4 linked regions of the Homo sapiens genome follow. The protein of the gene in region 2 binds, or shares a complex with, the protein of the main gene of each other region. Each region holds a gene or a part of one and is shown on either strand. Other genes may lie near its edges. The genes, in order: NME7, TUBGCP5, TUBGCP3 and TUBGCP2.

Region 1 (7,549 bases), on a different chromosome or scaffold from region 2:
CTCTAGGGACTAAAACAGCCTTGTAAGACTAATAGAAGGCCGCAAGGTTAGGACTATGGGAGGGACCTAAAATCTGCTAAAATATAGGCATAGGTAAGCAATAACCAGCTACTGTTCCTTGCTTTTCTATAATTTCTTACTATTCAGAAGTCATGTAGCCAGAGGTCACAAGATTTGTAACTTCACCAATTGCTCCTTTAGATAACATCACTATTGTAAAACCTAAGATTGGTCTTGAGATATTTTCCAGGCTTCTGCATTCTGGCAAACCTCCTGATGCCACCCAGATACATGCCTCATACCAAGAAACTGACTCTACTAGTCCTATGACTCTCACCTAGACAACTGACTCAGCACAGGAAGACAGTTTGGAAACACCTATAAATTCATCCCCAACCAATCAGCAGCGCCCATTCCCTACCAACCTGCCCACAAAATTATCCTTGAAAACCACAACTTCCAAGCTGTCAGGGAGGCGGATTTTAGAAATATTTCCCATCCTTCCACTCAACTGCCTTGCCTCCATTAAACTCTTTCTCTGCTGCAACTCCTGCATTCTCAATGTTTGGCCTTTCTGGGAAGTGGGCAAGAAGAACACGTTGGCCTGTAATAGGAGAATAAATAAGTTTGGCAAGCAACAAGAGGGTGCAAGTATTCTGTGTAGAAGGAATTGCAAGTGCAAAGTAGAAAGAGGAGGCATACTACCAGTTTGAAGTTGCTTGGTATGTTCAATGAAAAGCAAGTAGCTAAAAGGCAAGAGAATTTTTTTTTTTTAAGTATGGAAAGGGAAAGGCAAAAGCTAGACAGAAAAGTGCTTGTTCATGGAGGAACTTGTGTGCCATTCTAGACATTTTACTGTAGGAAATAGGGAATCTAGAGTTTTAAGGAGGTGAGTAAATCAACAGGTTGGGTTTTTAAAAATTCCTTCTTGTGGCAGAGAAAATAATGGATTGGAGAATTTCCAGACCAGACTGTAAAAGTCACTATTAAAATAATCACGAAATGAGGAGATGACAAACTAAAATTTGATCTAGTGAACAACTGAATATGGGAGAAATAGAAGAGGGAGGAATGTAGGATAACTCTGATTTCTAGTTTAGGTTATAATATAGTAGTAGCATTATTTAACTTGGTGAAAATAGGAGAAACCAGGAGGAAAGATAGCAAGTTCAGTTTTGGTCATATTAAGTTTGAAGGACATTTGAGACAGATGTGTCCGGGAAGCAACTGAGTTAGGCATTAGTAGATCTGAGAGGAAAATTGAAATTTAGAAGCAAAATCAAAGGTGTTAGTAGAATCCATGTGAGTGGACAAAATCACCCAAGGAAAATGTCTAGACTAAGAAATGAAAGTAATCAAGGAGTTAATTCCAAAGAATGACATTCAAAAACCAGGCACAGCCAGTAAAAGGAATTAATGACTATGAACCTCAGTTGTCACAAAGAGACTAAGTAATGTAAATTTTGAGAAGTAATTACTGTATTTGGTATTTAAAAGGCCATTAGAAACTTAAGCAAGAACAACTTTCTTGAAGCCATTAAAGAAGCCAGACAGAAGACTTTTGTCTGTTTGATATAAGTAAAAATAATATCCTTTCAAGAAGTTTACTGATAGATAGGAGGACTAGGAAATAACTGGATAAACACAGGATGGAGGACATGGTTTTGCTTTATTTAATTTTCATAAGATGTGTGACTTGAGCACTGAAGAGAAGAAACTGGAGAGGAAAAGGCTGAACGCACAGGAAAGAAAAAAACAACTGGAAGCGAAATGTAACAGATGGAAGCAAATGAGATCAAGAGCAAAGATGGATGGATTATCCTTTAATATCCCTTTCTCTACACTAGAAATACAAGACTAAAGGCTCGGCAAAAATATAGAGCAATGTGTAGGTTGGGGGCATGAGGTTGAAGAAATGGCCTGTTATACTCCATCATGTTTAGAAAGGAGAAATGAAGAGGGCAAAAGACAGGGTTTGTAAAGGGAAGGTTTGAAAATGTCTTCACAGAGAATGGGTCAGGGGAAAACTGGGGTAACCAAAAGGATTGCTGAGTAGTATGAAGAAACAAGGGGTGGTGGGTGAGGGCTCTGTTTCTAAATTCATAGCTATAACTATCTAAAGATCTTTCTATCCTCCAGTCCGTTATCCATAAGTGCTTAAAAGATATGGTAGTTAAGTGAATTAACTAGAACCCTCTCAAACATAGGGGTGAATTAAAATAACCTATAGGCTTATTTAAAATGCAAATACCGAGCTCCATTCCTTTCATTCAGAATTTCCAGGGGTGAAGCCCAAACAGTGAATTCCAGAAGCTCTCCAAGCAATCCCAGGAGAAATTTCTGTTTAAAAAAAAAAGAAGAAGAAAGAAAAGAAAAGAGAAAAGAAAAGCAAGCACAGACCTAGAAGGTAACCAACTGGATAGAAGAGCGCTGATCCAACATACACCTGTTAATGGCCCTCGTGGGGGCGTGGGGCAGTGCTCTGCCACTCAGAAAAGCAAAAAGACTCCAAGATCTAGGGAGATTCAGATCAGTGTTGAGACAGTCACATACACACCACCCCATACTCTTAATAAAGCGCGTTAATGTGAATCTGTGAACATGAAAAATGCCATGATGAACAATGCAAACACATAATGTTTGTTCAAAACAGGTTATTAGACTCGATGCCTTACCCTAAATTTTCTGTTTCATTACTCTAGAGACTTAGTAACATTAGTGGAATTCAGGGTGCTGTAAGAAATACGGAGAGCGAGGAGACTGCAGGAACAGCCCGTGGGAAGGGGGAAAGAGATAACGGGGAGAAGGTCGGGAGGACCGGACAACTTTAAGTGCCCATCCGCCCGAAGACTTGGAAAGCTAAGTAAGTAGGACCCCAGAGCCGTTCTTCTGGCATCCCCTGGCACTCACCATTGTCTCAGGATCTCAGCACTAGAAAATAGGTATCGTTGAGACAGGAAGACACCACCACCACCACCATCATACGGTTACTCAGGCAACAAAGCCCCGCCCACTGTCGCACGAGGCGTGGGACGCCACCGCCCCACCTCTTCGTCCTTAGTGGCTGGGAGTAATCTCAGCTGCGTTCATCCAATCGACAGACCCGCCCCTCCACGCTGTCGCCTGGGGCTACGAGACGCCATTATTCTGTTTCCGGCAGTTTTACTTCCGTTTGTTTAACAGCTGGCCCGGAAGTTTAAGTGAATATGCGGCTTGGGCTCCAAAAGTTGCTGTACGGTATTTTATTTTAAAGTAGAAATCTGTCCGCTTTTCACTTACGGAGGCCTTACAGTGTGTGTTCTGTGTTACTTGAGTTTATACGCACTGCAGAATTTGTTTACCCTGCTCTTTTGGAAACGTATTCCGGAAGCGAAACCCTGAGTAATCGGAAGTGGTTAGGAGTGAGAGAGCTGCTGGATATGCGGAGGGACTGGGCGGGTCGGCTTCCGAATGGAAGAGGTCTGTGAGAAGTTAACCTGGTGATACCGATCCGAAGAGCCTATCAAGTGAAGCCCCCTGAAATACGGAGAATAAGAATCTTAGAGGTAAATCCGAGGACAAGCAGGTATAACTAAGGATGTTGGAAAGGGACGGAGGTCTGGCTGGAGCTCGGTGGCCAGTAGCTTTGGATTTAGGGAAAGATTGTTCCGGGAAGACTTTTTCAGACAGGGATGAAACTTAGGTTTCGACTTCCCCGGACAGCAAAGTTGACAGGCTTGTCGCTTCCCGGCCTATCGCTTTCATACCTGCTCACTCCCCCTACTTACTTCTTCACCCCCTCCGCTTCATTTGGCATTTGCCAGCAGGCACTCGCTGTGCCTGTACGTTTCGCAGAGCAGCTATCAAGGGCAGTTTCAGGGATCGTTACTCTTACGAAGGGTTTTTTGGATACCTCTTTTCGGAGCAGTAGAGTGTAAGTGTAGAAAAGTTTGTGACTGTTAAGAAAGTTAGTCGTCGGGTTCACTAATTGAACTGAGTTGTATCTAGTACTGAGAACGATCTTTTTTTGTAGTGAAACCAGTTGTCATCTAGTGTACAGTTTGTCATATTTATATCATTGCAGTAGCATCACCTTCTTATATGTTCTCTGGTAAATCTGAGTCTGTACTGTAAGACAATGTATACATTTCTGAAAGCATGGGCTCGATATGTTTCTCTTTTTACTTTTGGAGCTACACTATTTTAATTTTAACTTTTTATTACCAAAAAAGTATAAATTATGTTATCTTGAGTAATATTTTTTGTCGTTTGTTAAACATCTAAACAGAAGCTCCTTTTTGATATGTGTGTGTGTGTATACAAATTGTGTCGGTATGTCTCCTAAGAAAGTAATTACTTTAAAATTCCTCTTGTCATATGGATGACAAAACCACCACAGTAACTTCATTCCCTTTGCTTGGCTAAAATTCAGGACATACTTCTGACAATTTAGAGTGTATTGGTGAGGATGGTGAAACGGAGTATTTAGAAGTAAACCACCCCTAATTTTTTTTTTTGAGACTTTTAGTAGACATAACAATGCCTTCTGTGAGAATGGGATATAAGGGACATTTCTCTTTCTAAATGCATGCGTACTAAATACAGAAGCAATTAAAATATCATAACTTTTAAATTGGAGGTACTCTATGTGTTTATATGATATTTTTAAAATTATTTCATATGCATACATTTCTAGGTTGTTCAGCAGAAGTCTTGGAGTGCATTTTCAGTGGTTAAGGTGAAAAAATGACTACTAAAAATTTAGAAACCAAAGGTAAGTGGCTTTTTTATAATTGTTTTTAAAACATGACATTTATGACGATGTGAAGGAACGTTTGAGCCAGATAACTAGATCTCATGGACCCCCTTGGGAATCATTTGTTATTTCAGATCCCTTTATGTTTATTTTTTAGTGCAGTGTTTATATTTCAGTACTTTAGATGTACAAGTGAAATTTAACATCATTAGTTAGAATTTATTAGGTGACTACTCTTAAACATTTAATGTTAATGCAAAGTTTTTAACAGCTATATTCCCTATACACTAGAAGATTACGATTTAAATAAGAATACACATTTTAAAGATTTAAGTAGATAGACAAAGCAACTAGGGTGTATCAAAGATCTCTTTCATGTTGTATTAGTTTGCTGGGGTTGCTGTAACAAAGTACCACAAACTGCATGGCTTGAACAACAAAATGTATTCTCTCAGTTCTGGAGGCTAGAAGTCCAAGATGAAAATGTCAACAAGGCTGTGCTCCTTCGGAAGGCATTAGAGACACTCTCCTAGCTTCCAGTGGCTTGCTGGCAGTCTTTGGTGCTCCTTGTCTTGTAGACGTACCACCCTTATCTCCGCCTTCATATTCACATGGCATTCTCCCTATGTGCATGTTTCTGTGTCTAAATTTACCCTTTTTATAAAGACAGCAGTCATATTGAAAAAAGGAACCCAGTCTACTCCTGTATGATTTCATCTTAACTAATTACATCTGCAGTGATCCTGTTTCCAAATGAAGTCTCATTCTGAGGTAGTGGGGGGTTAGTACTTCAACAAATAAAGATTTGGGGGACACAATTCAACCCCTAAATTGCTAAATACAGTAGTCACTTTTTAGTCCTAGCTGATTTGTCCTCTCTAATATTTAATACTGTTGACCATTCCCTGCCTTTTGAGATACGTTCTTTTGATGACTTCCATGACATCACTTTTATTTTCAGTCTACTCTGTAGCCTTTCACTGTCCAATGCGGTAATTACATGTGGCTATTTGAATTTAAATTAATATTTTTTAAAAATTAAAAATTCAGTTTCTCAATGACGCTTGCCAAACTTCAAGTGGTCGGTAGGCAAATATGGCGAGTAGCTATTTCAATCATTGAAGAAAATTCTGTTGGACAGCCCTGCTGTAGCTGTATCTTCTCTCTTTCTTTTTCAGCCTCTTCTCCTTCTTATTTATCTTTTAAATATCAACACTTTCCACCACTGTTTCTTTTCTACTCTCATGACTTCAGTAATTATCTATATAAATGACTTCCAAATCTATCTATATCCCTAATCTCCTTCTTTATGATTCATACCCTTATAGACTACTGCCTACTGGCCATCTTCACATAGCTGTAGGCAACAATTTTAACATGTCCCATAGTGAACTTCTCCTGACCCAGCTTATTCTTTGGATGGGTTGAGTTCTGCATGCTAGAACCATCAGTTAAAGATGGAAAACTGTTTTCTAGATGCCAATTTTTCAGCAAACTGACCTCCAGCCACAAACCCTCTCTAAAAGCAGGTTGAAATAAGTTTAAGAAACAAGGAAGAAAGATCATGCTAATAAATATTTAATTGAATTTAATTCAGCTTTGCAACAGCATTTCATAAGTCACCAGAAGGCTTTTATACCATTAGATAAGCAAGTCAGAGACTGTAATGAAAGTAATAAACTGGGGATTAATGGGAAATAAGAGCAGTTAAATAATTAATGTGAAAGCAACCAACATGGTGCTTGTCAAAAAGCAAAAACTAAATACAATATTATGATTAGTCATTAGAAGTACTGGCAAGTTCTCTGTGAAATTAAATTACTTTTTAATATTTATTATTACTTGTTTTTAATGAGGATTAGAGTTATAAGGCACTTTAACAAACATTATTTTGTGTGATCTTAATTATCCAGTAAGGAAAATAATTCTATTAGCCATATTTCTATTTAATCTGTCATCTGATGTTAGTGAACAAAAGTTACTTGTATTGCATGGCCTGTGAAAAGGTGTACTTGGTTGACATTTGTCAGTTGTCTGTGCTTCCTGTAACTGCCTCAGGAGATAAGTACGGTTGTTTGGTATAGCAACAGAACTTCCTCTCAGAAGACATTTGAGCAGCACTGTCATCATAAGAGGGTTGTATCATGGCTGCTAGTGCTGTTTCTGAAAGGGAAACATACAGTAAATAGTAACAATTAGAAACTTAAAATCCAAAGCTTTTCTTGGATGTGGGATTAAAATTGAAAATAAAGCTATTAAAGTCAACTAGTTTAGTAATAGTAGACCAAATAGAAAGGTCTGAGACATTTAAATATTTTTGATTCCATAAAATAGTCTAACACTAGTTCTGTAGAATAATAGGTGTTAGGTAAAAAAGATATTCCATGAGCAGATAAATTTGATAAATGCTGTATTAAAAGAGAGGCTATACTATGGGACCTCTCAGAGTCCTATAGTATAACTTTAATACTAATGTACATTGAAACTCTGTAGAGATGCAGTATGCAACATTGCCCACACTTATTTGACCAGGGATCTCTATCCATAGAGCCTGTGGTAAGAAGAATGCTTAGATTCCACTTCAGTAAATCTCGATGTTACTCTTAAGTCCATTGTATGTAACTTATTTTACTAATTTAATAATAACTAAACTTTATTAGGTGATATGGGTGACATTTAAAAAGACTCTTGATTTAAAATTACCACATGACAATCCCTAATTTGTTTAACTGTATCATAGCTGAATTTGTATATGTTCTGGAAAGTCTTTCAGACTATAACCAAGTTAGGAATTAATGATTTAGGGTAGAGGAA
Region 2 (7,393 bases):
AAACTGACATTGACACAGCACATTAGCCAAACTGCAGACCTGACATGGTTTCACCAGTGTCGCAGGAACTTGCTTTGAACAGGGGTGGGTGTGGTATATTCATGTATAGTTTATCACATGTCTAGCTCCACATAGCCACTTCCATGTTCAGATCACAGCTGTGCCATCGCCTCCCAGGAGCTTGCTTGTGCAGCCCTTTGTAGGCACAGCCTCCCTCACCCCTCTCTGTAACATTAGCCCATTGGGAGGTGTTTTGTTTTACCTAGTGTAATTTTAATTTGCGTTCTTTTATTATAAGTAAGGTCAAGTGACTTTCTGTATGTTTTAGAATCACTCATCATTCCTTTTTTATGAACTGTCAGTTCCTTTATACATTATTTTTCTGCTGAGTTGTCTTTTTCTCTGTGACTTGCAGGAGTTCTTCCTTAGGGAAATTAGGTCCTTGTGGTATGAGATTAAAATCCACCGTCCTCCATTTTGCCCTGCCTGTCCATAAGCCTGATGATTTGCCAGCATTTATGTCACATTTTAGATGCATGTATTTTTCCTTGCTGTTGAGTTTGATTTATTGATATTTGCAGATACTACAATAACTCTTGCAATAGTGGTGGACAAGTTGGCACCTCGATTGTCTCAGCTCAAGGTTCTGCACAAAGTGTTTAGTACTGGAGTAGCAGAAGTTCCACCTGATACTCGAAATGTCGTCCGGGCCTCTCACCTGCTTAACACCCTGTACAAGGCCATTCTTGAATATGACAATGTTGGAGAAGCCTCTGAGCAAACCGTAAGTGAGACTTCTGCCTAAAGTGTGTGACTCCATGCTGCACAGCAGAGGAGTGATAGACAGCTGATGGTAGTTCTTTGTTGATACTTGAATGATGACTCGTCAGACAGTTCAGAGTTTTTAAATTAACTTCCAAATTTAAGGCTGTAGGAAACTGGCTTTTCAGCTCTAATTGCCAAGATCCTCAGAAGGATGAGGCAAGGACAAGGCAAGCTGTGAGAAGTACCTACCTGATGTGTATAGATATTTACAATAACGCTTTCTTACATAAACACTAACATGTAACTAACATGACATGAGATAGCTGAAGTAGACACATCCACAGAAACAAAGTGGAATGCTGGTTACCAAGGGCTGGGGAATGGGGAGCTGTTGTTTAATGGGTACAGAGTTTCAGTTTTATAACATGAAAAAGTTCTGGAGATTTGTCACAACGATATGAATGTACTTAAAACCTCTGAACTTAAAAATGCTGAGGGTCAGGCACAGTGGCTCGTGCCTGTAATCCCAACACTTTGGGAGGCCGAGGCAGGAGGATTGATTGAGCCCAGGAGTTTGAGACTTGCCTGGGCAACATAGTAAGACTCTGTCTTTAAAAAATTAGTTAAATTAAAATTTTTTAAAATATACAGTTAAGATAAATTTTATGTTATATATTTTATATTGTATTTTAAAAAATACAAATCTAGGCCATGCATAGTGGCTCACGCCTGTAGTCCCAGCTACATATGAGTCTGAGGTGAGAGGATCACTTGAGCCCAGGAATTTGAGACCAGCCCGGGCAACATACTGAGACCCTGTCTCTACAAAAAATTTTTAAAGTAGCCAGGTGTGCTGACACCAGGAATTCGAGACCAGCCTGGCCAACATGGTGAAACCCCGTCTCTACTAAAAATACAAACATTAGCCTAGTGTGGTGGCGAACACCTGTCATCCCAGCTACTCAGGAGGCTGAGGCAGGAGAATTGCTTGAACCCGGGAGGATGCAGTGAGCCGAGATCGCACCACTACACTCCAGCCTGGGCAACAGAGCAAGACTCTGTCTCAAAAAAGGTAGCCAGCTCTGGAGGCACATGCCTATGGTCCCAGGTACTCGAGAGGCTAAGGCAGGAAGATGGCTTGAGTGTGGAAGGTCAAGGCTGCAGTGAGCCATGTTTGTGCCACTGCACTCCAGCTTGGGTAACAGAGCAAGACCCTGTCTCAAACAATATATAGATTTAAAAATAAAAATCTAACTAGAGGCTGTAATTTAGAATGCTACAGTCTTAGTTGGGTATGTACATTAGGTGTATTTTCTAGTTTGTTGGTATAACTTTTTTTCACACCAATTTAATACCATATTTCTTTTTTTCTTTTTTTTTTTTTTTTTTTTTTGAGACGTAGTCTTGCTCTGTTGCCAGGCTGGAGTGCAGTCGCACGATCTTGGCTCACTGCAACCTCCACCTCCCAGGTTCAAGTGATTCTTCTGCCTCAGCCCCCTGAGTAGCTGGGACTACAGGCGCACATCACCATGCCCGGCTAATTTTTTGGGGTTTTTTTTTGTTTTTTGTTTGAGATGGAGTCTCGCCCTGTCGCCCAGGCTGGAGTGCAGTGTCATGATCTTGGCTCACTGCAACCTCTGCCTCCTGGGTTCAAACTATTCTCCTGCCTTAGCCTCCTGAGTACCTGGGATTACAGGCGCCCACCACCATGCCCATCTAATTTTTGTATTTTTAATAGAGATGGGGTTTCACCATGTTGGCCAGGCTGGTCTCGAGCTCCTGACCTCCTGATCCGCCTACCTCGGCCTTCCAAAGTGCTGGGATTACAGGCATGAGCCACCACACCCAGCTGTATTTTTTTTTAATAGAGATGGGGTTTCACCATATTGGCCAGGCTGGTCTCAAACTCCTGCCCTTGTGATCTGCCCACCTCAGCCTCCCAAAGTGCTGGGGTTACAGGCGTGAGCCACCATGCCCAGCCAATTTCCTCATCCTTAATGGATGCTTTGCTAGTAATAGGATTTAGATAGGGAAACCTTGTTCGCTTGCCTGGGCTATCTCAGGATACACCTGCTGCCTCTGTGTCACTTTCACTCTCAAGTTTCCCAGTCTGGACTACAAACAATATGATCATCCCATATTTAGGTGAGTTTTTCTTTTTTCTTTTTTTTTTCTTTTTGTTTTGAGACAGTGTCACTCTGTTGCCAGGCTGGAGTGTAGTGGCACGATCTTGGCTCATTGCAGCCTCCACCTGCCAGATTCAAGCAATTCTCCTCCCTCAGCCTCCCAAGTAGCCAGGACTACAGGCGCGTGTCACCATGCCCAGCTAATTTTTGTATTTTTAGTAGAGAGGGGGTTTCACCATGTTGGCCAGGATGGTCTCGATTTCTTACCTCAGGTGATCCGCCCACCTCGGTCTCCCAAAGTGCTGGGATCACAGGCGTGAGCCACCACGCCCGGCATTTAGGTGAGTTTTTCATAAGGATTTTATAGTGTATGTTTTTGGATTTTTAATTTCTTTGTGCCCCAAAAAACATAGAAATCCGATCACTTTTTTAAAGGCATTTCAGAAATGTTTAAACCTCCTTTTATCCTAGTGACCAGGGAACCCTGAGAGCTGACCGTGCACACTCTCTGCCTCAGGTCTCCCTCCTTTTCTCTCTCTGGGTGGAAACGGTGCGGCCTTACCTGCAGACGGTGGACGAGTGGATCGTGCACGGGCACCTGTGGGATGGCGCCAGGGAGTTCATCATCCAGAGGTGAGCTGCAGCAGAGCACAAGGTCACTGGGGGCTGGCATCACCAGTTTCCTCCCCATGAAAATCAAATGCTTTCGTTAGTTTCAGACAGTACTGAGAAAGCACAGTTCACATCACAGAACTTGTCGTCATCATAGGCAAGTTCTATCTCATTTTTACGGAAGGCATCAGTAATACCAGCTGATTAGAAATATCTTTGTCCAAGTTTTGTCAGTCCGCAACTTTTCTTAAGCAAATTATATTTTTGGATGGTAGTATATTTATGGCTAGCTAGTACACACTGCTTCCCATAAAATGAGTTTAGATGATATCATATGGTTTCAGCTATTTCCATTGTAAATTATCAGTAAAGAGATACAGAAATATTACAGAGTATGCCTCTAATATATTTATTTCTCTGAATTATCTACTGATTTCTTTTACCTTAGTATATTTTACAAAACAAGGAAAATCTTAATCCATTTATGACAATTTCCCTTCAGTTAATTGATTTTTCTGAATAGAATCATATAAACAATGTAGAGCTATTTGTACTCTTTTAGCCCAATTTTAAATTATGCGGTATATTTAGATATATGGTTTCTATTGATAGCTATCCATTGAGCTCATCAGGAAGGATAACTTTAAGTCTTTAGTGTTCTGGAAGGGTAGCAATATGTATGCAATGCTCACATAAGTGAACTGACCCTTCCTTCAACTCAATCTCATATCTGTCACTGTGTTCTGATTCATCAATCTCACATGAGAATTTTTGTGAAAAATAGGACTCTGACTGTTCTTCTAGGGTGATGATTGACCATCATTTTATTGTTAAAAGTAGTCCAGTTAAGAATCTTTGTAGGGAAAATGATAGAGAAGTCTGCAAATTAGTTTCACAGCAGATGGTAAATGGATAAACTTTTATTCTTCTTCTAAAGAGGACCAAATTAGTCATATTTTAAATAATTCCAATTCAGGAAACTATTTCTACTTAAATTTTACTTACACTATTCAAAGTATTTATTCACTTTTCTCTTTAAACTGAGATGAGATTAAAACTGTCCCATTTTGCCTAAAGTTTGCTTCAGTTTACTAATAATTAATACTATGTTTTATAATGTCTGGACAACAAACTAGAACAAGTATGCTGTTTTTAAGAAAGAGAAATAAGAGTTTAAAATTCTTTTGAATCTCTTTAGAAACAAAAATGTTCCAGTTAATCACAGAGACTTCTGGTATGCAACTTACACGTTATATAGCGTATCAGAAAAGACAGAAAATGAAGAAAAAATGAGTGATAACGCTAGTGCGAGTTCCGGCAGTGACCAGGGGCCCTCCAGCAGGCAGCACACCATGGTGTCCTTCCTCAAACCTGTCCTGAAGCAGATCATAATGGCTGGCAAGTCGATGCAGCTGCTGAAGAACCTGCAGTGTGCGGAGAGCACCACCTGCCAGGCAGGAGCCAGAGGTACTTGTTCCGTCTTCCTGTGTCTCTCTTGGTGTTGGGACACCTGACCCTACTCGCTCTTGTCATCCTGATACCTAATTATTTTGTAGTTTGCAAGTCATCAAACCCTCTTATTTCGGTGGCAATTATCGTCATGGTTGAATTAGTAACCATGCTGCTCTTGATTTTTTAAAAGATTGTCTTCATTGAAAACTTTTAGTGCTGTGTTTGAAAAGGCAGTGACGATAAGTTCCACATGCATTTTCCTCACTCTGGATTCCTTAGGACTGGAACTTTAAAAAGTAATCCCCTGCCATTTCTTTTCTTTTATTATTTTTATAAATTGACATAATAATTGTACATATTCATGGGGTACATAGTGATGTTTTGATACATATATAGTGATCAGATCAGGATAATTAGCACTTCCATCATCTCAAACATTTACTACTTCTTTATGTTGGGGACATTCAGTATCCTCTTCTTTGCTATGTGCAACTCTATAATACATTATTAACTATAGTCATCCCATAGTGATACAGAGCACTAGAACTTATTCCTTCCAGCTAGCTATTTGTATCCTTTAACAAATATCTTCCTCTTTCTCCCTTCCCCCTACAAAATCCAGCATCTGGTATCCTGTTCTACTTTTTACTAATACGAGATCAACATTTTTTAGCTACCAGATGAGTGAGAACATGCAGTGTTTAACTTTCTGTTCCTGGCTTATTTCACTTAATGTCCACCATTTCCATCAGTGTTGCTGCAAACAACAGGATTCACTCTTTTATCTTCAAGATATATACATATATATATATATATATCTCACAATTTTTTTACCCATTCATCTGTTGTTGGGCACCTAGGTTGATTCCATGTCTTGGCTGTGTGAATAGTGCTGCAGTAAACATGGGGGTGCGGATGTCTCTTTGATATCCTGATTTCCTTTCCTTTGGATAAATGCCCACCAGTGGGATTGCTATATCATATAGTAGTTCTATTTGTAGTTTTTTGAGGAACCGCCAAACTGTTCTCCATGGTGTCTGTACTAGTTTATGTTCCCACCAACATTGTGTAAGAGTTTCCTTTTCTCCACATCCTCACCAGCATTTATTTTTTGTCTTCGTGATAAATAACCATCCTGACTGGGGTGAAATGATACCTCATTGTGGTTTTGATTTGCATTTTCCCTAATAATTAGTGATGCTGAGCATTTTTTCATCTATTTCTTGGCCATTTGTATTACTTCTTTGGAGAAATGTCTGTTCAGATCATTTGCCTTTTTTTTTTTTTTTTCCTGAGACAGAGTTTTACTCCCATCACCCAGGCTGGAGTGCAGTGGTGCAATCTGGGCTCACTGCAAGCTCTGCCTCCCTGGCTCAAGTGATTCTCCTGCTTCAGCCTCCTGAGCAGCTGGGATTATAGGCACCCGCCACCACACCCGGCTGATTTTTTGTGTTTTTAGTAGAGACGAGGTTTCACCATGTTGGCCAGGCTGATCTCGAACTCCTGACCTCAAGTGATCTGCCCGCCTTGGCCTCCCAGAGTGCTGGGATTACAGGCGTGAGCCACCGTGCCTGGCCTCATTCATTGAATTCTTTCACTGTAAAATTTGTTTGTTAAACATCTGTTTCTGTTGAATTTCTCATTCAAATCATTCTTTTCCTGATTTTGTTGAGTGTTTATTTGTACTGTCTTGTATCTCACCGAGTTCTCTTGTATCTCACCGAGTTTCCTTAAGATTTTAATTCTGAATTATTTTTCCGGCATTTCCTATATCATTGTAGTCTCTTGCTAGAGAATTATTGGTTTTCTTGGGAGGTGTCATGTTTCTTTGCTTTTTCATGTTTGATGTATTTCTACATTGATTTCTACACATCTGGTGGGAAAGTCACCTTTTCCAATTTTATGGAGTACGTTTTGTAAAGAGTTATTCATATGAATGGGTCTTGGAGTGTGGGTTCAGTGGGATGCATTCACCTTGGTTCTGGACAAATGCAGTAGTATAGTCTCCATGTACTTTCTTCAGTTGTAATCCACTTTAGTGATGTTTGCAAGTGCCTCAGTGGCCTACAGTGAGGGGGTTTGTGGCAACAGTGGCACAGTTGGCTGGGCGTGGTGGCTCACGCCTATAATCCCAGCACTTTCTTTTTTGAGACAGTCTTGCTCTATTACCTAGGCTGGAGTGCAGTGGCATGATCTCGGCTCACTGCAAACTCTGCCTCCTGGGTTCAAGTCATTCTCTTGCCTCAGTCTCTCAAGTAGATGGGATTACAGGCATGTGCCACCACGCCTGGCTAATTTTTGTATTTTTAGTAGCGATCGGGTTTTACCATGTTGGTGAGGCTGATCTCAAACTCCTAGCCTCAAGCAATCCACCCGCCTCGGCCTCCCAAAGTATTGGGATTGCAGGCGTGAGCCATCACGCCCAGCCAATCCCAGCA
Region 3 (7,393 bases), on a different chromosome or scaffold from region 2:
TGTATTCATTAAATGGGGCCGGCTCGGCCAGTAAAGAAAAAAATGCCATCCAGGAGAAGACGTAGACTTCCCCCTTATAACATACTGTGTGCCAGGATTATACCAAGTTCCAGAGGAATTAAAGATCTAGGTAATAGGCCAGGCATGGTGGCTCCTACCTGTAATCCCAGCACTTTGGGAGGCTGAGGCAGGCAGATCGCTTGAGCTCAGGAGTTTGAGACCAGCCTGGGCAACATGGTGAAACCCTGTCTCTACCAAAAATGCAAAAAATTAGCCAGGCATGGTGGTGTGCTCCTGTGGTCCCAGTTACTTGGGAGGCTGAGGTGGGAGGATGGCTTGAGCTGGGGAGGCAGACGTTGCAGTGAGCCAAGATCATGCCAGTGTACTCCAGCCTGGGCCACAGAGTGAGACCCTGTCTCAAAAAGAAAAAAAAACAGATCTAGGTAATAAAAATAACTCAATAGAAATACTGAAAGAACATGATGGACAATATTTTCATAATCTAGGAATGGGAAGATCTTAGGAAGACAGGAAACTCAGAAACCATAAAGGAAGACTGACATTTATCTACATATAACAAAAAAATAGATCAGAACTAAAATATGGACCATACTATAAACAATGGCAAATGATTAACTTGGAAAAATTAAATCTCTAATATTTAATGATTCACAAATGGTCACTATTCCTAATGTACAAAGAATTTTTGTATATTGATGAGAGAACAAAATGAATAGCAAGATGGGTCAAGGGCATGAAAAGACCATTCACAGGAGAAGAAAAGCAAATGGCAATTAGAACTATGAAAATATGCTCGGCTTCATTTTTGGTTAATGACAGCAATATAGGATAACCATGATTCCACCTGACTGGCAAAATCTAAAATGAGCCAGGATGCAAAAACAGGACATCTTGCCCGTGGGAGCGTCAGTCTACACAGCTGTGTGGAAAGGAAACCTGGCATTGTCTATAAAAACTAAAAGCTACTTTAATTCAGCAGTTGTGCTTTTATAAAACAAGTTTATAGAAATAAAAGTGCAATTCTATTAGGGTGTATGATTGAAAAATGAGAATGGCTGCATTGTTGTAGTGGCAAATAAACTGGAAGCAACAGCAATTGAATTTTCTCCTTACTGCTCAGTTTCCTTTCTAACGGCAGTGATGTAGGTGCCCGTCAGGGTCAGGGCAGGGGAGCTGCATGCCAGTGAGGAAGAAAGCTCCTGAGCACAGATGGTTCCTGGGGGAGCCACACAGGGGTCACTTCTACAGTGCCACCTGGCTGGTGCTGGCCCCTTGTACACATGGGTACATGTACAGCAAGGTCTGCCCATAGAGCTTGGGACTTGTCTGTGAACAGAGGACGCCGGCCTGGGCACCTCTGTGTTCCAGGCTTTGGGGCTTTGCAAAAGAGAGACTGCAAGGGCAGGCAGACTGATGGGAGGAGACACACAGCTGCTGCCTGTGAGGGAGGGGAACCCCAAAAGCCTGCACCGTTACTGAGGAAGAGCTCCGTGTGGCCCAGGAAGCCTCAGTATTATGCTGCAGAGGCACTAATGGACATTCTGAATCTCCAAGGAAGACATAACTTGTTTTTGTTATACTTTAGTTTTAAAAGTTTAGGAAATACATAGTTCAATTTAGAGAGATTTCTGTGTTTCATACAAGTTTTATTGTATAAATAGGTAAGACTCCCTGTGTCTGGAGAACTTGGCTTTCTAGAATAACTTACTCTTTGATGTTGCTGTTGGTTAATATTTTGCCATAAATATCACTCTTGAACATTTCCATGCCCCTTTGCTTTCAGTTTTTTGTAGCATCAGATCCAACAGTTAAAACAGATCGACTGTGGCACGACAAGTATACTTTGAGGAAATCGATGATTCCTTCGTTTATGACGATGGATCAGTCTAGGAAGGTAGGATTAGAAGAGATTTTTGTGATTTTGATGTTTTATGGCTATGTATACTTAGATTATGTGACAAAACCAATTTTCAGTTAAAATTTCATGCGTTTTGAGATTGTTAACGTTCTGGAGATGAAGTAAGTGCATGTTAATTGAATACATCAGTATAGTATGTGTTCAATATATCTTTGAGTTACTAGAATTCGCTCCATACTGTAGCAGATGCTCTTGTTAGTTTTCAATCAATAGCCAATTTGTAGCTTACGAATATTTGTAGATTTGGGCAGTCGTTTTAAATTTACATAAAAGTAATCATAGAATGTTTTTCTTTTTAGGTCCTTTTGATAGGAAAATCAATAAATTTCTTGCACCAAGTTTGTCATGATCAGACTCCCACTACAAAGATGATAGCTGTGACCAAGTCTGCAGAGTCACCCCAGGACGGTATGATGATGCTGGTGGGGTGGTGATGATGGCAATGGTGTGATGTTGATGATGATGTGAGGATGGTGATACTCATGGTAACAGTGATGTTGATGACGTAGTGATTGTGATGGTGTGATGATGGGGATGATGGTGATGTGATGATAATGATGTTGGGGATGGGTGGTGATGATGGCGATGATGAATGCGTGGTGGTGGCAGTGATGGTGGTGATGATGTTGATGGTGATGATGATGGGGGTAATGATGGTGGTGTGATGATGGTGATGTGATGATGTTGGGGATGGATGATGGGGATGTGATGATGGTGTGCTGGTGGTAGTGATGATGGTGATGATGATGATGGTGATGATGTGGTGATGGTGTGATTATGGTGATGTGATGATGTTGGGGATGGGTGGTGATGATGGCATGGTGGTGGCAGTGATGGTGGTGATGTTGATGGTGATGATGGTGATGGTGTGATGATAGTGATAATGATGGGGATGGGTGGCGACGGTGATGATGGCGTGGTAGCGGCAGTGATGGTGGTGATGATGTTGATGGTGATGATGGTGGTAATGATGGTGATGGTGTGATGATAGTGATGATGGGGATGGGTGGTGATGACAGCGATGATGATGGCATGGTGGTGGCAGTGATGGTGTTGATGATGTTGATGGTGATGATGGTGGTGATGATGGTGATGGTGTAATGATAGTGATAATGATGGGGATGGGTGGTGATGATGGTGGTGATGATGGCGTGGTGGTGGCAGTGATGGTGGTGATGATAGTGATGGTGATGATGGTGGTAATGATGATGGTGATGTGATGATAGTAATGACAATGATAATTGTGATGGATGGTGATAGTAATGATATGATGATGGTGATAGCGGTGATGATAGTGGAGGTGATGATGATGTGCTGATATTACAGATTACTTAAAAGTATTTTTTGTACCATAGGATTTATAGATTATTAGAATTACTCTCTGATACACCTTAATACATAGTATTATGTATGTATATATATAGTACTGTGTAAATTTTTAATTTCCTTTTTATACAGTTATACAGTAAGTGTTGGAATAGGTATAGCTGTTTTAAAATGATAAAGTGGCAGTGTGCCAAAATAAGAAATAACAGAAAAAATATTGCTAATGGTAGCCTATTCTTTGGGATGCAAAGGCTTTGTTTGGAGAAGAGCCAGGACTTATTGCACTTATTGTGTTTATTGCATTCAGAATGTCGCATGAGCGTTCAGCCTGTGGGAAGTGCTGAGGCTTTCCCTCGTTCTCTTCCTTTTCCCCATTTGCCGCCTGCCCCACCCTCAGTAATTTCATGATGTTTTGTGTATGGCTAACTTATATTTATAGCTCTCCAGTTTTGGCTGTATTTGCTATTTATATTGTCATGGTTCATTCAAAAGATTTACTTTGCGTAGGACACTGTGGTAGCTACAGGAAAGAGACAATGACTTCACCATGACTGTTCCTTTCATGAGCTTATTAGTCTGGTCTTGGAGAGGAGATGTGTAGTAAAATAACCAGTAGTCAGTAATAAAGGTGAAAGTGATCAGGGACGTGAGATGTGCAGGTGAAGCGCTTTGGGTATTTTCAGGCAAGGCTCAACAGGAAGGCTTTGGAAAGAGGCAGGAATTGCACTGGCCATGGAGAAGGAGGAGAATTTGGTTGTGGGTTATTGCGCAGCCCAGGACAAAGGAATAATGTGCATGGAAGTGCAGAAGAGAAATAGGACGAATTAGACTTATCTAAAGATTGTAGTGAAAATAAAAAGTTATTATTTAATAATGTGACAGACTAAAGAGAGACAGACTAGGACCTCATGTAGGAAGCAGGATAGGTTACTGGGTATGGTTTTAGCTACAGGTGTTACTGGAATGACAGATGTTCTCTTAACAGGACTTGGCTCTCTGGACAGGAGGGCTGGGGATCAGGAAGAGTCAGTGATGGCACTAGAACTCTGAGCTCGTGAGGCCAAGTCGGAAGGGCAGCAGGGGATTTCGGGAGAGCATAGCACTGAGAGAGGAATGTCATTTCGGGCAATTTGGTTTTCAGTAGCTGAGAGGACTTACTAGTGGAAGCTTCCAGCATGTATTGGAAATGCTATACTGAAACTCTGGTTAAAAGTCAGGGCCGAATATAGAGATTTTGGAAGCACTTATCTCACCATGGTAACTCAGGACAAGGCAGGATGGTGTAGCAAGAGCTCCCGTGTGGTCCAGGGGAGACACCCTTTCCAGGCATGTGAGAGCCATGGGCCCTCTCACCCTAAAGCATTCAGACATAATTTTACATGTATTTTTTTGTGGGGGGGTACATAGACCCCAGATTGTTCCTGGAATAGAGATAGATGTGATCCAATATAGATTTTGGGGAAATGCTTCTACACTGAAGAGGTGGAAGGAAGAAGAACCAGGAGAGCAGTTGTGTTCGAGTTGTGACCTTTCATAGTTCCTAGAGAAGGCGGCGCACACATGGGCTGTGCCTGGGACAGGGCGTCCCCATGCGCCTGCTGTGCCGGAGGCTCTCCATGAAGGTTGCTGCTGCTTGTGTGAGCACCGCGTCTGCTGTGCTGCTGGCGGCCCCTGTACCCACCGCCCCACATCTGCAGATTCAATCAACTGAGGATCAAAAACACTTAAAAAAAGGCAGCCACTAAAAAAATACACAAAAAACCAAGACAATTTAACAGCTATTTGCATAGCATGTACATTGCGCTAGATATTATAAGTAATTTAGAGATGATTTACCGTATATGGGAAGATGTGTGTAGGTTAGGTGCAAATATTGCTTCATTTTGTAGAAGAGACTTGAGCATCAGGGAATTTTGGTGTCTGTGGGGGTCGTGGGATTGGTCCCCTGCAGATGCTGAGGGTGACGGGGCGCTGCTGCTGCTGACGCTGCTGCTTCTCTGTGACGACTCCTGTGGTCCCCGTCGTCCTGTCCATGGCTGCCAGGGTCTGCGGAGAGCAAAGTTTCTGCTGTTGAGTATTTATAGTATAACTGGGAAGACAGAAGATGCAAATCCTAAAAGACTCCTAGTAATGGTCAAAAAACAGGAGAACATGTCAAATTCATTTTTATCTGTGAAAAAGTTATGAAGATTTAAAAGTGTGAATAAAGAATAAATAGTGAAAATTTAAAAACTGAGCACGAGAGATGCCTCAACCCTGAAGGAGCAAAGAGAGTTCCGAGGAGGCTCTGGGTTCTGTGTCTTCATAGGCTGCTTTGGGCTAAGACTGATTCAAACCTTCTCTTTGGAATGAAAATTTTTAATGACTCAAACAAGGGTGTAATGAAAACATTTCTAGAGAAAAATCTTTATGTCATTAAAACTACGTAGATCAATGGAAATAGAACCCCATGCCCTTAAAACAGGACTGTGGTGAGCTCATCAAGGGGTTCCGTGGTGTCGTGACTCCAGGCAGACCTCACTCATCCTCAGATAACTACAGTTTCTTCACTGGGAGCATCTTAGTTGTTTGCTACTAGTGTGAAATTGGAATAATAGCAACACTAAAATAGGCCTGTCTTAACTGCTTTCTTATTCGGAAGGACAAACAAATCTTAAGAGTCTTCTGGTATATTTAAACTGGGTAACTCAGATAGTGGAAAGAGACTTAAACTCTGAATCAGAAGATCTCGCCTTTCTTGTCCTTGCTTAGTCTTCAGCTAGCGTTTTGCCTCCTTCTCTCAGTCTGAGGTTGTTCCTCCCACTGGGGTTATTGTCTAGCTTAAGTATTATTGTGGGTTTAATGAAATGAAGTATTCATATAAGTTTTAAAAATGGTTTTGTGCTTTGCAGATGTAAATCAGCACTGTAAGAAGCTCTGTTATGTGTATAGTCTCCACCTGCAATTTCTTCTCAATAGAAAGCTATGGAAATGCTTTCTTCCGCTATGTTACTGCTTAGAGTCAGGCGTCTTTATTGGTGACAATCTGGTTTTGTCCCCTAGACATCTCCACCAATCTCCGTAGAGTTCACTCTATGGTGCATGATACTACTACTCAACTTTTGCGAGTTGTACAATTCACAAAGCTTATTTGCATGTGCTGTTTTGGTCTTAAGACTAATTTATGGAAACATCTTATGGGTATGGACGGGTGACTCAGCACTGACTTGCCCTATTACCAGTGTGTTTTGGTGAGATTTACGGTTAGTTACAGTGTATTAAGGGATTTGGAAATCATGAAGACACACATGTAGGTGTCTGCTGTGAACCCAGCTGGCAGAATTGTTTTCATGTGTGTGGTCTTAGGGCTCTGGTCTCCTTTGTGGAATGTCCAGCTGTCTGTGCCTGCGGTCAGTCTGTTACTGATGCCACAGGCAGTGGTTGGCCCTGAGTCTGGATGTATGTGCCTTCATTTCTCCTCTGTGGAAATACAAATTACATATGCATGTGTGCTCTTCCCTGTTGTTCTTTACAGCTGCAGACCTATTCACAGACTTGGAAAATGCATTTCAGGGGAAGATTGATGCTGCTTATTTTGAGACCAGCAAATACCTGTTGGATGTTCTCAATAAAAAGTACAGCTTGCTGGACCACATGCAGGCAATGAGGCGGTACCTGCTTCTTGGTCAAGGAGACTTTATAAGGCACTTAATGGACTTGCTAAAGTAAGGCACTATTTTGATTTCTATAAATAAGTAATATATTTGACATGATAAGGAATCTTGTATTTAAAAGAATAAATTATATTAAAAGAAAATGAGTTGAATTCTTCGAGCATACTTTTTAAAATAAAATCTGAAAAGAATGTAAAATTTTCAAAAGGTAAAGCCCCTTCATTTTTCTCTGGTTATCAGCAGAGCATCATTGTCATGTTCTGTGCTTTATTCATAAGAGAAACTGGCATTTCTTTCCAAAACTGTGGGGCTTACAGTCTTCATGTATGAGGAGTTGGTCAAATCACACTTAACTTTAGCTTGAGTTTGAAATAAAGCTGAAAAATAAAATATATATTTTAAAGTTGAATTTTACTTTTATATTTGTAGTTAATGTTCACCTAAAAATGAAACTATGACCTTTTCATTTTGCTCC
Region 4 (7,393 bases), on a different chromosome or scaffold from region 2:
CTCTCCCGTACAGGTAGGGCTCCCCGGGACACGGGGACATGGGGGACATGGGGGACACGGAGGGACACGGAGGGACACGGAGGGACACGGGGGACACGGAGGGACATGGGGGACACGGAGGGACACGGAGGGACACAGAGGGACATGGGGGACACGGAGGGTGCGTGCTGCCCTCTCCCGTACAGGTAGGGCTCCCCGGGACACGGGGACACGGAGGGACACGGAGGGACATGGGGGACACGGAGGGACATGGGGGACACGGACGGTGCATGCTGCCCTCTCCCGTACAGGTAGGGCTCCCCGGGACACAGGGACACGGAGGGACATGGGGGACACGGAGGGACATGGGGGACACGGAGGGCGCGTGCTGCCCTCTCCCGTACAGGTAGGGCTCCCCGGGACACGGGGACACGGAGGGACACGGGGACACGGAGGGACATGGGGGACACGGACGGTGCATGCTGCCCTCTCCCGTACAGGTAGGGCTCCCCGGGACACGGGGACACGGAGGGACACGGGGACACGGAGGGACATGGGGGACACGGACGGTGCATGCTGCCCTCTCCCGTACAGGTAGGGCTCCCCGGGACACGGGGACACGGAGGGACACGGGGACACGGAGGGACATGGGGGACACGGACGGTGCATGCTGCCCTCTCCCGTACAGGTAGGGCTCCCCGGGACACGGGGACACGGAGGGACACGGGGACACGGAGGGACATGGGGGACACGGACGGTGCATGCTGCCCTCTCCCGTACAGGTAGGGCTCCCCGGGACACGGGGACACGGAGGGACACGGGGACACGGAGGGACATGGGGGACACGGACGGTGCATGCTGCCCTCTCCCGTACAGGTAGGGCTCCCCGGGACACAGGGACACGGAGGGACATGGGGGACACGGAGGGACATGGGGGACACGGAGGGCGCGTGCTGCCCTCTCTGGGGGCTCTGGCCTTCCTTTGCTTGTGGTCTCAGGAAAGCACACCCCGGGCAGATGTCCGCCTGCTGCCCATGGGGCCCAGGGCAGGAATGGCCCAGCTGCTTATGGCCTTATTCTTTTGTGTGCAGGACATTAAATTGCCTCCAATTAGGTCCTTCAACCTCTTTGGTGCTTGGATTTCCTGATCTGGTGGGGTCTGTCGGCTTCTCTTCAGTGCGATATATTTAAATGGATAAAAATATGTTAGTTCCCAAAGAATTGTATTATGTCTATTACGTCAAGATACCGTTGTTGAAATATTTTCAAAAAATACATTAGTGATGTGGAAATGTTATTTCTTTACTAATGGACCAAATAAAATCTGGTATAATGGGCACCTTTAAAGAAAGCACCTTCACACTTGAAGTGCGTAAATGATGTTTGAAGTTGTTCAGATGATGACGTGGAGATGTCTGGTTTCTGTCAATGTTGGCCCCGCCTACCCCACACGAGCATCATTTTGGGTGTCAGGGCCCCACGCACCCCACACGAGCATCATTTTGTTGCCTGGGCTCATCATGGAAGGAAATGCTAAATTCCAAAAAGAGGTGGGTGCAGATAAAGACAAATCAGTTTCCCACCTATCTCTGCGGACCGTACATTCTCCCTGAGCCCAGGTTAAATACTCCGTTCCAGAGCGAGGTTTGTAGGTTTGTTGGTTTTCTTTTTTTTTTTTTTCTTTTTTTTTTTGAGGCAGAGTCTCGCTCCATTGCCAGGCTGGAGTGCAGTGGCATGATCTCGGCTCGCTGCAACCCCCACCTCCCAGGTTCAAGCGATTCCCCTGCCTTAACCTCCCAAGTAGCTGGGACTACAGGTGCACACCACCACGCCCAGCTGATTTTTTGTATTTTAGTAGAGACGGGGTTTCACTGTGTTGGCCAGGATGGTCTTGATCTCTTGACTTCGTGATCTGCCCACCTCAGCCTCCCAAAGTGCTGGGGTTACAGGCGTGAGCCACTGTGCCCGGCCCCTAGGTTCGTTTTAGCCGAGAAGTGTTGGGGTTACAGGCGTGAGCCACCGTGCCCGGCCCCTAGGTTCGTTTTAGCCCACAGTTGAGAAGTAACTGGTAGATTAGGCTCGGCCCTTGTGGAACGTTACTTGGAAGTGTGCTGGCCTCTGTTAATGTCCCTGCGCGCTGCCGGCCTGGAGAAGTGTCGCCTGCCTCAGGCGCCCTTGCTTTGCCTGTGACCGAAGCGCTCCCTGTGGTTTTAGTGAGTTTATGGTCGAGGAGCACGAGCTGCGGAAGGAGAGGATCCAGGAGGATTACAACGACAAGTACTGGGACCAGCGGTACACCATCGTCCAGCAGCAGATCCCGTCCTTCCTGCAGAAAATGGCGGACAAGATCCTCAGCACAGGTGCGGCGCAGCGGGCGGGGACTTGGGGTGCGCAGCACAGCTCTGCCTGGAGAGTCTCCTGCAGCCCAGGCCCTCCCACCGGGAGCCTGTGCCTCACCCTGTGGTTGCCCTGAGCCCTGGTGTCCGTGAATGCGGGGCTGAGGTCAGGACTGGCCCGTGGGCTGGGCTGCGGCGCTGAGTTAGGCCTTGAGATGGTCTCTGTTGCCAGGTTCCCTCAGGTTTCCATCTCCGGGACTCTGTCCCTGACCCTGCGAGGCTCTCTCACAGGTGCCTTCTCTATTTCTGTTTCTGATTTCTAAAACTCCGCTAGCATGTCAGGAAAAACCAGCAAAGACACACGCCTGGCGGCCGGCAGTGTTTCCTATCTCTGACCACACAGGTTAGGGCCTGACCTGGACCCAGGGCAGTGGCGCGGGGACTTGGACTCGGCACATCGGGGCCGTCACGAAAGGGTTGGGAAGCGATTAGCCATCCGGTTCTCATAATGCCTGTTCGAAATTATTTCTGTGCCCTTGGTTAGAAAATTCCAGATGTGCAGAGCCACGGCAAAGCCCTGCCACCACCAGCTCAGTCTGTAGCCGCTGACAGTGATTTACCGGGAAGGAGCAAGGGTGTGGAGCCGCCTCATGCAGCCCAGTTTCCATTCCACTGCCTTCTGTGTAGACAAAGACAGCTGGGGCCTCAGACTGACCGTGTGGAGAGCCCATTCAATGTCCATTCCACTGCCTCCTGTGTAGACAAAGACAGCTGGGGCCTGAGATCGACCATGTGGAGAATAAAATTTTGAATTTCTGTGTTTTCAGGAAAATATCTAAATGTGGTCAGAGAGTGTGGCCATGACGTCACCTGCCCGGTGGCTAAAGAGATCATCTACACGTTAAAAGAGCGGGCGTATGTGGAGCAGATCGAGAAGGCGTTTAACTACGCCAGCAAGGTGCTGCTGGACTTCCTGATGGAGGAGAAGGAGCTGGTGGCTCACCTCAGGTGATTCCGTGCCCTGTCCCTGTGCGGGCACTCACCTCCCTCTGAAACCGGAACCTGTGGGACGTGGGGCTGAGATCGCTGGGTTTCTTCTGGCAGCTCCGCCTTGTCTTTTTGAAAGTGGGCACTGCTGGATGGTCTCTAGCTCAAGGACCTGGCACTCACAGTGGGTGGTGTAGGCCCCCGGTCACCTTGTCCAGGGGCCCCAGCTCCCCTCCTTGCCCAGGGCCCACCAGCCCCTTCTCAGCTCCTCCTGCCACAGCTTGCGTGGTGGTTGCACAGCCCCTGCCTGAGAGCCAAGCGCTTAGCCTGTTGTAGTGTGTTTTAGGGTGATGGCTATGGCGAGCATCTGTGGGTGGGCACGTGCTCACGCCTGCTCCCTGGCCGTGGCGGGCACCTGCGGGTGGGCACGTGCTCACGCCTGCTCCCTGGCTGTGGCGGGCACCTGCGGGTGGGCACGTGCTCACGCCTGCTCCCTGGCTGTGGCGGGCACCTGCGGGTGGGCACCTGCTCACGCCTGCTCCCTGGCGCAGGTCCATCAAGCGCTACTTCCTCATGGACCAGGGCGACTTCTTCGTGCACTTCATGGACCTCGCGGAGGAGGAGCTCCGGAAGCCGGTGGAGGACATCACGCCCCCTCGCCTGGAAGCGCTCCTGGAGCTGGCGCTGCGCATGAGCACGGCCAACACTGACCCCTTCAAGGACGACCTCAAGGTGGGTGGGGGTGCCGGGGGCTGTCCCCTGTGGCAGAGGCCTCGGAGGGGCTGGGAGGAGAGCACAGCAGAGGCCAGCCCTGTCCCCCACTCCCCGTCCCGGTGAGGCGACCGCAGGGTCTGTTTCCTTCACTTGGCTACCGGGGCCGGCTTGCCGGGATCGGGGGTCTTTGTGCCTGTGCTCTGGAGGGGCGCGGGTCTCGGGTTTTCCTGCAGTGCCCTCGTCCGGGCCTGGCTTTCAGGTCATGCTGGCCTTGTGGAATTGTTTTCACGTGTCCCTCCATCTGTCTTTTGAAAGGGTTTCAGGTCTTTTGAAAGGGTTTCAGGAGTGGTGTTAATTCTTTTTGTTTTTGCCTTTTTGTTGTCGTTGTTTTTTGTTTTTTTTTTTGAGACGGAGTTTTGCTCTTGTCACCCAGGCTGGAGTGCAGTGGCATGATCTCAGCTCACTGCAGCCTCCACCTCCTGGGTTCAAGTGATGCTCTACCTCAGCCTCCCGAGTAGCTGGGATTACAGGTGCGCGCCACCACGCCCAGCTAATTTTTGTATTTTTAGTAGAGATGGGGTTTCACCATGTTTCCCAGGCTGGTCTTGAACTCTTGACCTCAGGTGATCCACCCACCTTGGCCTCCCAAAGTGCTGGGATTACAGGCATGAGCCACCGTGCCCAGCCGTTTTTTAAAATATATATATGTTTTATCTGTTTTTTACTATTTTTAATAGAGACGGGGGTCTGTGTTGCCCAGGCTGGTTGAACCCCTGGGCTCAAGCGATCCTTCACCTGCGCCTCCCCAGGAGGGTGTTGATTCTTTGGCTGTTTGGCAGGGTTTGCCTGGGAGCTCTTGGGCCCTGGGTTTGTCTTTGTTGGAGACTTTTGAGGGGGACTTGGCCCCTTGCTGGCCACAGGTCTGCTCAGTCCCTTTCCTCTTGGTCGGCTGTCTGTCTCGCATCTTGTCTGGTGCACAGTTCATGGGTTTCTAGTATCTGCTTTTTATTTCTGTAAGATTAGTAGTTATATCCCTTCTTTTTCTGATTTTAGTAATTTGAATCTTCTTTCGTCTTAGCTGATGTAGCTAGAAATTTGTCGATTTCATTATCTTTTCAAAGAACCAACTCTTGGGTTTGTTGACTGTATTTTTCTGTTTTCTCTCTTCTGTCATCTTTGTTACTCCTGTCTGCTGCTTAGGGGTTCAGTGTGGTCTTCTTTTTTCTAGTTTCTTAATTTGAAAAGTTAGTTTACAGCTGTAAACATCCCTCCGAGTGCAGCCTTCGCTGATCCCCTAGCGTCATAATTTCTGTTTGTCTGGAGGTGTTTCTGATTCCCTCTGATTTCTTGTTGGAGCCGTGGGTGGTTTATGTTTAACTTCCACATGTTTGTGAAGTTTCTGGTTTTCCTTCTGTTGCTTGTTTCTAACTTTATCTCCTTGTTAGAGAACAGACTTTTTGTGATTTCAGTTTTGTGAAATGTATTGATTTGTGTAGTGGCCCCACATCCATCCTGGAGAGTGTTCCGTGCGCGCGGGAGGAGGATGTGCCCTCGGTTCCGTGCGCGCGGGAGGAGGACGCGCCCTCGGTGCTGTTGGGGTGGTGTTCTGCAGGTGGGTTGAGGCCGTGTCTTTCCTCACTGATCGTCTGTCCGGCGGTTCTCTCCGTGGTTAGAAGTAGGGCACCGAGTCTCCCTGTCACTGAAGAACTGCTTTTCTCCTTGTCATTCTGTCTATTCTTGATTCAGATATTTTGGGGTCTCTTGTTAGGAGCAGGAATATTTTCGTAGGAAAAATTCCTGGTAGTGAAATTGTTGGGTCACAATACATGGCCCTTGTATGACTAGGCTGACCTTGCTGGAGTTGATGGAGTCCAGTCTCAGGACGCTGCTGTCTGCACACCTGCGAAAGCTCCCACCTTGGCTATTTGATGGACAAGTGATGTCAGGGGCTCATTTCTGCGTTTGTGATGGTCACGATTTCGTCTGTCCGCTGCTTGTTTCTTCTTGCTTTATCCCCTGCCCTTCATTTCCTGTCCTGTCGTTGTGCGATGGTTTTGTAGGAACTCTGTTGCGGGTGGTTGGAACTTAGCAAATACTCGAGTGATTAACGTGAGGACAGTATTACTTGCTTATAATAACTATTATGTCCCTCGTCAAATATGCTTCATTTTTCAACCTGGGCCTGGTGCTTATCATGGTACAAAGGTTTTCGTCCTAAGGAATCACGTTTCTTTCACCGTCCTTAGCGGTTTTTCCCTTATACCACCCACAGCAGCAGTGGGTATTTACAAAGTAATTCATCTGAATTTTTGTTGTTTTGTTCTGATGGGAAGTGGTTCAGTTTTGAATTTGATTTATCAGTAGATGTTTGGGTTTTTGAAAAGCCTCTGATATTTAGAATCGGAATGTAGGGAACCTTACGTCAGCGCTGGGTCTGTGAGCGAGGATGGCGATCGGGATGCGACTTCGGGTCTTTTCCTTAAAACTGGATGCTTTGTTTCATTTCCTTCCCTCCAAGATCGACCTGATGCCCCATGACCTCATCACTCAGCTCTTGCGCGTCCTGGCCATCGAGACCAAGCAGGAGAAGGCGATGGCGCACGCCGACCCCACGGAGCTGGCGCTGAGCGGCCTGGAGGCCTTCTCTTTCGACTACATCGTCAAGTGGCCCCTTTCGCTCATCATCAACAGGTGCGGGTCGGCTGCTCGGGCACCTGCCAGATCTTCACTCAGGTTTGGCAGAAGCGAGAACTGTGCCACGCGGTGGCCACCTCGTCCCACAGAGGACCCAAGGCGGCTCTCCCCGGCCTTCAGTGTCCGAGAGATTCACGGGCTGTCCGGGGGCCACGGTGCGGACTGTGGAGTACAGACGCCGTGTCCACGACGCCGCCGGTCACGGAGGCCCACCTGAGGTGCCGCCACGTCTCTTGCAGGAAAGCCCTCACTCGCTACCAGATGCTCTTCAGGCACATGTTCTACTGCAAGCACGTGGAGCGGCAGCTCTGCAGCGTCTGGATCAGCAACAAAACCGCCAAGCAGCACTCGCTGCACTCCGCCCAGTGGTGCGTTCTTCCTCTGCCCCCGCATGCCCTCCTGAAGCAGCGCTCGCTGCACTCTGCCCAGTGGTGCAGCGCCCCCCTTGTGCCCTCCTGGTAGACAGCTTTCTAGGCTTCTGGAAGTGTCATCTGGAAGCGCACGTTGGTGGCTTTAGATCCATAATGCTTCATTGCTTCATTTTCCTGTCTTGGGGCTGCACGGCGCTGCCGTCCACCCCACAGGGGATGCTGGCTCTGTCCCTCAGCCCTCTCTGGAGCCTTGTGGTGACTGCACGGGCATGGAGACTGCCCAGGTCGGTGTGCAGGACACTAGCTCCTCCC

What was found.
Region 1: TUBGCP5 (region 2) and NME7 share a complex: the UniProt entries of both Homo sapiens proteins name them as parts of the gamma-tubulin ring complex.
Region 3: TUBGCP5 (region 2) and TUBGCP3 share a complex: the UniProt entries of both Homo sapiens proteins name them as parts of the gamma-tubulin ring complex.
Region 4: TUBGCP5 (region 2) and TUBGCP2 share a complex: the UniProt entries of both Homo sapiens proteins name them as parts of the gamma-tubulin ring complex.

The regions. Positions count from the first base shown.
Region 1 is NC_000001.11:169,364,798-169,372,346, forward strand, and holds the start of NME7 (nucleoside diphosphate kinase homolog 7), read right to left. Parts: upstream 3,001-7,549; 5' UTR 2,914-3,000; coding exon 2,911-2,913; intron 1-2,910. Other genes in the region: BLZF1 (golgin-45), read left to right, coding at 4,726-4,753. UniProt on the Homo sapiens protein: Possesses an intrinsic kinase activity. Displays 3'-5' exonuclease activity with a preference for single-stranded DNA. Does not seem to have nucleoside diphosphate kinase activity.
Region 2 is NC_000015.10:23,015,350-23,022,742, reverse strand, and holds part of TUBGCP5 (gamma-tubulin complex component 5), read left to right. Parts: intron 1-581; coding exon 582-784; intron 785-3,362; coding exon of another isoform or gene 3,363-3,408; coding exon 3,409-3,524; intron 3,525-4,701; coding exon 4,702-4,970; intron 4,971-7,393. UniProt on the Homo sapiens protein: Component of the gamma-tubulin ring complex (gTuRC) which mediates microtubule nucleation.
Region 3 is NC_000013.11:112,521,896-112,529,288, reverse strand, and holds part of TUBGCP3 (gamma-tubulin complex component 3), read left to right. Parts: intron 1-1,804; coding exon 1,805-1,915; intron 1,916-2,238; coding exon 2,239-2,347; intron 2,348-6,779; coding exon 6,780-6,969; intron 6,970-7,393. UniProt on the Homo sapiens protein: Component of the gamma-tubulin ring complex (gTuRC) which mediates microtubule nucleation.
Region 4 is NC_000010.11:133,284,770-133,292,162, reverse strand, and holds part of TUBGCP2 (gamma-tubulin complex component 2), read left to right. Parts: intron 1-115; exon of another isoform or gene 116-761; intron 762-855; exon of another isoform or gene 856-1,330; intron 1,331-2,193; coding exon 2,194-2,339; intron 2,340-3,142; coding exon 3,143-3,323; intron 3,324-3,853; coding exon 3,854-4,034; intron 4,035-6,534; coding exon 6,535-6,707; intron 6,708-6,949; coding exon 6,950-7,078; intron 7,079-7,393. UniProt on the Homo sapiens protein: Component of the gamma-tubulin ring complex (gTuRC) which mediates microtubule nucleation.